Linked DNA regions of Homo sapiens: region 2 is linked to region 1. Evidence: fine-mapped expression QTL. Tissue or cell type: nucleus accumbens. Region 1 holds a variant in brackets; the other region holds the start of a gene. All regions are shown on one strand. Distances are between the middles of the regions.

The links.
Region 2: it holds the start of ANKRD30BL, and the variant in region 1 is fine-mapped to the expression of ANKRD30BL in nucleus accumbens (GTEx, PIP 0.96).

Annotation. Positions count from the first base shown.
Region 1 is chr2:132,040,031-132,045,351 of GRCh38, reverse strand. It overlaps LOC124908048 (extensin-like), which reads left to right and starts at 3,630. Exons shown (of 4, transcript XM_047446884.1): 1 at 3,630-3,768. The coding sequence starts at 3,630. The variant T/C (reference allele first, on the strand shown) is at 2,384.
Region 2 is chr2:132,159,488-132,164,868 of GRCh38, reverse strand. ANKRD30BL (ankyrin repeat domain 30B like) reads left to right here and starts at 2,917. Exons shown (of 6, transcript NM_001358416.1): 1 at 2,917-3,381. The coding sequence starts at 3,164. RefSeq lists an enhancer at 2,124-2,624.

The DNA.
Region 1 (5,321 bases):
TGCACTCCAGCCTGGGTGACAGAGGGAGACTCCGTCTTAATGATAATAATAATAATAATAATATGCTCATAATGTATTGCTGAGTATTTGACATGTAGAAATGTAATATATCTATAACATATTTTCCAGTAACATCAAAGAGGAGGTAGTTGGAAGAAAAATGTATTGTGATAAGGTAATCACTCTAGATGGTAAAGTAGTAATTACTAAAATGTATTGTTGGCTTTGTAACTTTAATAGATATAATGTGTAAAGTGATAATACTTTAAAATGGAGGAAATATAAGAGATTTGTATAAGAATGATGTTTCTATGTATTACTAAAAGTTTACTAGTATAAATTGGAAGATGATTTGAATAATTAATTTTCCATATACCTATATGGTAAACTTACAACAACAACAAAAATTCCCAAAAATATATACTAAAATAATTCATTAGTAATCTAAAGTTCCATATTTTAGAAAATATTCATTCATTGCAAAATAAAGCAATAAAGAAAAATATTTGAGAAATACACAAAACAAACGGTAAAATGGCAGACATAAATAGAATTATACCAATTATAATATTAAATGTGAGCAGATTAAAATCCATTCAAGAGGCAGAGATTCTCAGACTGGATTAAAACAAGTGATCCCAATATACGCTGAGACGCAAGGATACTAATGGATTGAAAGTAAAAAGATGACAAAAAATATCATGCAAAGAGCAATCATAAGAACACTGAACTCATTATACTCATAACACACGATATAGACTATTAAAAATGTGAATAGGATTTTAAAAATTTATATTGTAGTAATAAGGGGGTCAGCACTTTTGGAAGACATAGCTATTACAATCATGTATGCACAAATATGAGCTAAATTGTTTCATCTATATAGACGCTGAAATCCTAACCACTGAATATGACCTCATTAGGAAATAGGTTCTTTGCAGGTGATTAAGTTAAGATAAAATCAGATGAGCCTGAATTCAATATGACTGATGTCCTTATAAAAAGAAGAAAATTGAGTAGAGGGAGACATACATACAGGGAGAGTACCATGTGATTATGAGGGCAGAGATTAGCCAAGAAATGCCAAAGACTGCCACTAAACCACCAGAAGCTAGAAACAAGGCACAGAACAGACTTTCTCTCATAGCCCTTGAAGGGACCATCCCTGCTGACACCTCAGTCTCAGACTTTTAGCTTCCAGGACTATAAGACTATAAATTTGTGTTGTTCAAGGCACCCAGTTTGTGTTACTTGGTTATGGCAGCCCTAGAAAACTAATACATGAACTAATAACAAAGCATAAGAACATGAAGCAAAAATTGACAAAAGAGGAGCATCAGCAAAATGGCAGTGGAGACAACTGCAATCTTTCACTTCCCCACAGAAACATCACACAACTAAGAGAAACTGTCCGAATAAACTTTGCCAAAACTCTGGAAAATGGTCAAAAGATTACAACAACCAAGTGAAAGCAGACTCAAGAACAAGACAACTTGAAAACTTTATGACGTTTTTAACTTGCCTTTGCCCCAGCAAATTGGCTGTTTTGAAGTGTCAGAAGCCCACGTTCCCAGTGAGGAAACCTGGTCCATCGTCCAAAGGAACAAGAGAAGATCTTACCCTCAAATTATTATGTGTCTGTTCTGACTGGTCTGGGGGATACCTAAAGGACTAATGAAAGGCTTTTTTGTGTGTGTTGCTAGGATACAGAACAGATAAGGAATGGACATTATTAAGAAACTCTACAAGGAGACCTAACAAGCCACAGATGCTTAGGGCAAAAATTAGAGTTTACACATATAGTAGATCACCTTCAGCACAGGAAGAAAAGTTGGAGTAGAGTATATGGAAAACTAAGACATTCAAAATCATTCACGTACATGGGAGAGTCTAGAAAGTCACATGTATGCATACGTTAAGCCACATGCTGACAAATGTCATAAGAAGACCCTACACTTTTACCTTCGCTGATCCCTCCCCTCAGTGCAGGCTCTGTGCAAGAGTGAACTTGAACTTCACTCAGTGCAAGAGTGAACACACACTTTGTCCCGGCTTTAAAGAACCCAGCACAAAGCCAGTCTGCATGGCCTAGAGACCTATTTTGCTGGATAATGATTACTTGTTTTTCTTTTTGTTTTTGTTGTATTTGCCTGTTTGCTTAGTTCCTGACATACAAGAAAATCAGTCAAAACATTATCTTAACATTTGTTAAGGAAACAAAAAGACTTGGGTGACCACACCTTATAAAGCAAACAGTTTTGTTAATCACTTTGGAAAATTTCACTAAAAAAAAATCCTTAACAATATAATAAGTAAATAAAATTTAAAACCACAGAACGTTAGTATGTTTGTAGGGGGGGGTCTGATTTACAGAGTAACCACA[T/C]AGTAATTATAATTATTATAATGTCCAGTTTTCAAAAAAAGTTACAAGGCATACAAAGAACGGGAAAGTATGGGTCATTCAAAGGGACAAAATAAATTGACAGAAAATATCTCTAAGGAAACCCAGACATCAAACTTACTAGACAAAGACTTTAAAACAACTCTCTTAATTATACTCAAATGTCAAATGTCAAAAGGAAAACATAAACAAAGAAATGAAGGAATCAGAAAAAAATATTAAAAAGTAGGAATATCAACAAAGAGATAACAGAAATTCTGGAGTGGAAAACTACAATGATAAAAATTTAAAAATCACCAGAGGGATTTAAGAGTATATTTGCACACACAGAAAAAGTCATGAGCTTGAAGATAAGAAAATGGAAAATATTGATTCTGAGAAACAGATAAAAAATGAGCAGAGACTAAGGAATCTGTGGGACATCATCAAATAGACCAACATTCATATTCTACAAGGATAAATTATGCTGTTAAAAACTTTACCTTTCTTTCCTTTCACCTTTCTTTCTTCCTCCCTCCCCCTCCTCCTCCTTTTTACTTTTCTTCCTCTTCCTTTCTCTTCTTCTTTCTCTCCTTCATTATCCCTTTTGCTCTGTTTCTCTTTCTCCCTTTCTTTTTTCTTTTCTTTCAATTTTCTCAATTACTAAGAGATGTTTAAATACCCTTACCATGTTAGTAGATATGGTTATTTCTCCCTTTAGTTCTCTTTTGAGATTTATAGTCACTCTAAGTAAAGAGATAACCCAAACATAAGCCTCACAAACAGGCTTCCATACCGTTCTTAATTTGGTCCTGTAATTCTTCATGTCTGTATTAACCTTCTGATGCTTTTAAGGATGTTTTATAACAAATTGTTTAGTTTTTTCCAATGGAATGTTTATTCTGAATTATCTAATTCATACTGTAAGTATATAGGGAGTTTAATATAAAATTATTAAATATTTGTGAAAGAATGTATTTGTGCATTTAACAAATATGTTAATCCTCAAACTGTTATTGGGCAGCTGAGCATACAGCAATAAAAATAACATAATTTTTATGTGTACAATATTTATGGAATACGTTACTGGAACAAATAAATAATTTAGTTAATAACAGGACAAAGAACAGAAATTGTATACACTATAGAGCATAGTAATGGAATAATGAATGATTAAAGTTATTAATATTAGGTAGAACATGAAGGGTATCTTTGAGAGCAGAACTCAAGGAAGCAAGCAATTCGCCTTATGAGGAAAGAGTTACCTGTGGATAAAGGAGAAACTGAAAAATTTACAAGTCAAGACTTTTTAAGCAAAAACAAAAATATGACTTTTAGTCACCAATTCAGTACAGTGAAAAAAAAGTTGAAGAAGAGATATCTTGGAAGTAAATCATGTTGTGGAAGAGCACATAGGGTTTTGATAATCATGGGATTATTCTGAATTAATTTTAAATGCGATAGGAATATATGAGATAATTTCACCAGAGAATAATATGATTCCGTTTGCATTTCAAAGGGGTGTATCTGGTGCACTGTGTAGAATAAATAGGTTATGTGAGCAAATAAATTGGGAGGCTATTGTAATCCAGAGAAAAAAGGTAGTGACTTAGGTGAGAATGCTGTAAGTATGAGTGGTATTAGTGGTGAGAAGTCGTTAGGCCATGGATGTATTTCATAGGACTGGCCAAGAGAACTGCAGCTAAATTGGAGTGTAGGGAGTGAAATGGAGAACTCAAAGATGACTCTCAGCACTGGAAGGTGACAGCTGTCACTGAAGCATGCTGATGCCTCTTATTAAGAGAGTTACTTGGGAATGGCAAGATCAAAACTTCTCACATTCAAATTTATGAAAAATATTGTTTTCAGAACGAATGACTTTGGGATCAGAAAGCCATCACTCTAATTGACGGTTCCACGACTACACAGGCTCACACTCCCAAGAGCAAAAGTAAATCATCACAAAGGTGCTTCCTGATAATTCTAGAGAATGGAGAATTACTGTAACATCTTTCTGATTTTAGGAGAGGTAGCAGTTCCCTTTTTAGCCTAAACGCTATTTTTTTTAAAGCTCAGCCAAGAGACTCCATTATAATTTTCAAATGTGTGTAACTTAAATTCTCATATTAAATACCACTATGCTTAAATTAGTCAAAACATTTTCCCCATCTACAACTCTATCTTTTCATCGCAATCATTTTCACAAAAGTGACTGCAGCTAACAGACCCTAAAGGGGAAAATCTAGGGTAGGTTATCTGATCTAGTTAGTTTTGAAGACAGGATCTAGAGATTATTTAATATGAAATAGGTCACCTGAAATGAAGTGTTTACTGAAAACAGCTTGGATCAGCCCAGTTTTCTACCACTGAACCATGCATTTGGTTTAAAAAACACAACAACACTGGGGAATATTGGCTGCTTCCAACTGTGTTGAAGGTGTTAAAGAAAAGAGCATAAAATTATAAATGATCATCTGAGGCCTTTATAGTCTCTGCTCAAGAGACTAGAGTCTTCCATTCTTAACGAAACACCCAAATATCTTAATAATTGGGCAAAATCTAAATATCAGAGAAATAATTTTATCTTGAAGATTGTTAAATTATAATGGTGATTCACTACCTTGCCACGTCTCTGAGTCAAAAATTAGATCGTTGTTTAGGAATCAATTGTACTCTGCAACTTGGAAATAGGAAGATTTTAGAAGACTCAAACATTGACTTTCTTGTGTGCAAAAAAAAGACGTATTGACATAAGACAAGTCTTCCCTTGCAAGGATACCTCTAGTGCTCATACACCACCTCTCCTAACGTTAATATAGCTTCCAGATCACTAACCAGTGTCAGAGAGCAGCCTATGCAACTACAAATTAAAAAGATGTCGAACACAGGGTCAAGCCTAGAATAAGAAGTCTTAGCTAATTAAGTATGCTTTTCCCCCCAA
Region 2 (5,381 bases), 120 kb before region 1:
CCATCTTCTGACCTCGTGATCTGCCCGCCTTGGCCTCCCAAAGTGCTGGGATTACAGGCGTGAGCCACTGCACCTGGCCTGCATTTGTTAAAAAACAAAGAATGTCACTTAATATATGCAAATTTTAAAACAACAACAACAACAAAGTAGGTGTTCTGGGGATCCTGAGATGGAATGCAGAATGTGATAGAAAATCTAAAGTACTACAAATGTATAAAGCCACTTCACTCTAGGGAGTGGGAAAAACGTGCTGACATAAGCATCTTAGAAAATGGATGGGCCTTCTGTGGTGGCTCACATCTGTAATCCCAGCACTTTGGGAGGCCAAGGTGGGCGGATCACCTGAGGCTGGGAGTTTGAGACCAGCCTGGCCAAAATGGTGAAACCCTATCTCTACTAAAAAGACAAAAATTAGCTGGGCATGATGGCGGGTGCCTGTAATCCCAGCTACTCAGGAGGCTGAGGCAGGAGAATCGCTTGAACCTGGGAAGTAGAGGTTGCAGTGAGCCGAGATCACGCCACTGCACTCCAGCCTCAGCCTGGGCAAGAAGGCAAGAAGAGCAGAACTCCATCTTAAAAAAAAAAAAAAAAAAAAAAAAGAAAAAGAAAAAGAAACAAAGAAAATGCATGAAGACTGAAAGGAAGAGAAACTGCAAACAACTCATGTGATCTGGTTGGTATAGCTGTCTCCTACAGGAAATGGGATAGCGATTCTGATATTGATAGAGAATGAATGTATATTGGAACTAGACAGTTAAGCAAACGGATGACAAATGACAGGAGCCTGGTTTCTCATTATTAAAGTGGGAGGTTACATGTAAGCAAGGGGAGAAGGCCGGAATGATCATGTGATAAAAGAATTGAGTCGTAGACATCAGTATGAACTAACACTTACACACATTACATTTAGAAATATTTATAGTTATGTGTATACACAGCTTTGTATACACACATTTATTTCTTTGCTCTGTAAACTAAGACGGTCTAGAAGCAATGATATCCCAGCAGAAATGAGCATATCTAACACTCAAGTCTTCAATTCTTGGGTTTTTGTTCATGATCCAGGATCCAGGAGTTGGGCCCTGGGGCTGGGCATTGTGTAGCCTCCGGGGTGGTGCTGAGCATCCATTCCCACCCTCCTGCAGCTGGGGACCCATCCCTTGACTTGGGCCCCCTGGAGGCAAGAACATGGTCACCCACTTTAATCACATGGTCCCTATCACATAATCAGAGGGCTCTGTGGGTTTTAATTCTTCAAGCTAGATGTGTAAACAATTCGACATAGATAAGATATAGTGACTAGAAGTCTTTCATTTATTTATTTTGAGAGAGAGTCTCTGTTGCCCAGGCTTGGAGTGCAGCGGCACAAACAATCAAACAATAACCAAAATCCAGAAGACTGAAAAGGTCAAATGCTGTCAAGGATGGGGAGCAACAGGACCTCTCATTCCTTGTTTGTGGCACAATCAGTTTACTGTACCCACGAACTCCCAGGCCCAAGTGATCCTGCCACAATCAATCTCCCAAGTAGCTGGGGCCACAGGCATGCACCACCATGCCTGGCTGATTGGTTTTATTTTTATAGAGATAAAGTTTCCCTGTGTTGTCTAAGCTGGTCTCAAACTCCTGGGATCAAGTGATCCTCCTATCTCGGTCTCCCAAAGTGCTGTAAGTACAGGCATGAGGTCCTGCACCCAGCCTGGAAGTCTTTATAGATAAGTTCAATTTAACTGTTTCTCCATCTGCTCCACTCAGCCGAGTTTCCCTCTCAGTCCAAGGGTGAGAACTGCAGCTCAGCCCCATCCAGGAGGGCTGCAGATGACCCAGCGCCACTGCCATACTCCAGATGCTGGTCAACGAGGAAGGGATCCTGAGGCCTGGCAGCGGGCGCTCTCAGGAACCTTGAAGCCCTCTAAACGGGACCCGCCATCCGTGCCTGTCAGAACTGTAGCCGCTACCTGCACTTGGCGCACAGGCAAATACGGCCAAGCAACCCCAAACTCCCCTCTTCCCCTCTGGGCCCAGGCGGCGCTGAACCTGCTGCTCAGCCGCATCCTGGCGACTGCACAGTGCCCAGAGCCTGCAAACCAGCGCTCAGGGCGCGAGCCAAGGAAGAGCAGGGCCTAGAGTGGGAGGGCGTGTGCCACACGGCTACCCTCAGGCCGTCGGGCCCAGCCCTGCAGCCTCTACCGTGGGCTCAGCTGCAGCTGGCATTTGAAGGTGGCAGCAGCGGTGGCAACCCCCGAACCTGTCCGCGCCACCAGCAGGCGAACCCCAGGGTCGGACACCGCCACTGCGCCTAAGTCAGGCAGTGGGACCTCAGTTGCAGGATCGTGGGAACCTGCCGCAAAGCCTCATCGCCGCAGCTGTACAGGGCCCAGTGGTGGCAAGCCTGCGCTGCCAGCGCGAGCCGAGGAAGAGCAGAGCCCCGGGTGGAAGGGCGATGTACTCGGCGATGCTCAGCGGTCTGGGCCCAACCCTGTAGCCTCTACCATGGGCTCAGCTGCAGCTGCCACCTGAACATGGCACGTGGCAGGAGAGGCTGCAACCCTGACCCTGCCAGCGCCACCAGCCGCGCGGATACTTGGGCCAGAAGCCTCCAGGCGCCTAAGTCAGGGATGGGTCCCTGGCTGCAAGAGGCCGGGAACCGACGCTCAGCGCCACCCTGGAGGCTGCACGATGCCCAGCGCCAGGGCCCAGCTCCTGGATCTCAGGTTGAGGAGGGGACAGGGGCAGCTCTGTCAAGCAGGCCATGTGGCAGGGAGCCCCCCACGTTCCGCTCCAGGGAGCCCCGCCAGCCCGATAGCGCCTCAGTAGCAGGTGCCACCTGCACGCCGTGCTGGGCGAAGCGCAGCCAGGGCGGTTTCCTGCCTCGCGTGTCTCCCAGGTCTGCTGAGTTGCGCATGCGCTGTTGCCTAACGGTTCTGCTCAGCTGCCTAAAGGTTCTGCTCAGGTGCCTAACGGTTCTGCTCAGCTGCCTAACGGTTTTGCGCAGCCATTTTCTCCCGGGAGAGGTTGGAGTGTCCAAAAGCTTGGCCCGACTGAGATTTCTAGTCTTGTCAGGGCGGATGCAGGGACTGAAGAAGGGCGAGGGCGAGCGGCGGGGACTGGGGAAGGGCGAGCAGCGGGAGGCACGGGCTCTCTCTAGCAGGTGGCTGCAGCCATGGAGAGGCTCTCTGCCGCCCCTGTCAAGGGCCAGACGGGCCCAGAGCGCCCGAGCCCCTTCAGTCAGCTGGTCTACACCAACAACGACTCTTACGTGATTCACCATGGGGATCTCAGGAAGATCCACAAAGCTGCCTCCCGGGGCCAAGCCTGGAAGCTGGAGAGGATGATGAAGAAGACGACAATGGACCTGAACATAAGAGATGCGAAGAAGAGGTACCAGGCCCTGCCTGAGCCGGGGCTGCAGGAGGAGGAGGAGGCTGTGGGAGGATCGCCCCTTCAGAGTGGGGCCTGGGGGTCCTGGGGACGAGGGGAGCAGGTGGAGGAGTGGCGGGCAGCGGGGCGGCCGTCCTGGGCCCCGAGGTCTTGGCCTTCTTCCCGGGCAGGTCCCCCAGGCCTTGGATGAGGGCGCCCTGCAGGGCGGAGGGCACAGGCCACCTTAAAATCAACCCCAAACTTTAGCTGCTTTCTCCTTCACTCCCACTTCCTCTCACAGAGCACTGTGTAGAGAATTTTAAAGTGATTTAACTTATAAAATTAAGTACATACAGGGTTTTACTTTTAATGTACAGGTTTTAAAAGATGTTAGATACATTATGAAATGGTGCATAATGAAATAATTCCCATAATATATTAACTTCTTGGCTAAAAATTTTTTGGATAAAGTCCAGTATCCATTTCAATATCAATGAATGTCTATGTAAATATATTCTTTGCTGAGGGACCTTAGAAGGTAACTTTGAGGTGGGAAGATGGTTTATGTTTTCGAATTTAAGAAGACTCATTTTTCTGAAGATGCAAGTTCTTTATCAGTTTTACATAAACCAAATAAAGTTATCAACGTTTTAACATTTTTAAAATTACACACGCTGTCTTTTACTATTGTGGTGACATTTAAAACATTTTGTAACGGAGTAGAAAAGTCTTGCCCTTCTAGATTTCAAAATGTGCTATTAATTTGCACAAAATGGGCCATGGCCAGGCGCGGTGGATCATGCCTGTAATCCCAGCACTTTGGGAGGCCGAGGTGGGTGGATCATGAGGTCAGGAGATCGAGACCATCCTGGCTAACACGGTCTCTACTAAAAATACAAAAAATTAGCCGGGCGTGGTGGTGGGCGCCTGTAGTCCCAGATACTTGGGAGGCTGAGTCAGGAGAATGGTGTGAACCTGGAAGGCAGAGCTTGGAGTGAGCCGAGATCGCACCACTGCACTCCAGCCTGGGTGACAGAGCAAGACTCCGTCTCAAAATAATAATAATAAATAAATAAATAAATAAAATTTGAAAAAAAAAAAAAAAAAGGGCCAGGCGTCGTGGCTCATGCCTGTAGTCCCAGCACTTCGGGCGGCCAAGGCGGGTGGATCACCTGAGGTCAGGATTTCAAGACTAGCCTGGCCAATATAGTGAAACCTCAAATCTACAAAAATACAAAAATTAGCCAGGCAGGATGTCGGGAGCCTGTAAGCCCATCTACTCGGGAGGCTGAGGAGGGAGAATCGCTTGAAACTGGGAGGCGGAGGTTGCAGTGAGCTGAGATCCCATCACTGCACTCTAGCCTGGGAGACAGTGAGACTCTGTCTCAAAAATAAATAAATAAATCACAAATTATTTGATAACAGCTGAAAAGACAGGTAAATGAATACAACAGAGTAGAAAATCCAGAAACACCCAAATATCTAAGAATTTAGAACTTGATAATGCTCACAGGTTATACTAGTAGGGAAAGAATTAGTTTCATAAGTGAAATGCCTGCTTTTTGGAGAAAACTAGATTTTTATGCCACAAAGTAAATTTCTGATGGAATATAGATTAAATTTTTTTAATATACAAAATGATAAAAGCACCAGAAGAAAACATAAATACCTATTTACACAGGTACATTTTTATGTTGACAACACCTTTCTAAGAAGCTCAGAAGCAAGCAGTCTGAAGGATAATTAAGCAAAACAAAATTAAATTAAACTGTAATGAGAAAAAATAAAAGGCAGCATACTTGTAAAATATTTACTACACATGTATGTGAGTGTGTGTATACATATTAGATTTTTAAATCGTCATTTTATAGATAATTCACTTAAATCAACAAAAAACCCGCTAATTATAATTGAGCAATTTAAGTTAGAGATATAAATTGCAGATCTAAAAATAGTACTTTGCTTCTAATTTAAAATTGGGAAAGTATTTTCTTAAGATCTGTAAGTGACCTATGCACACA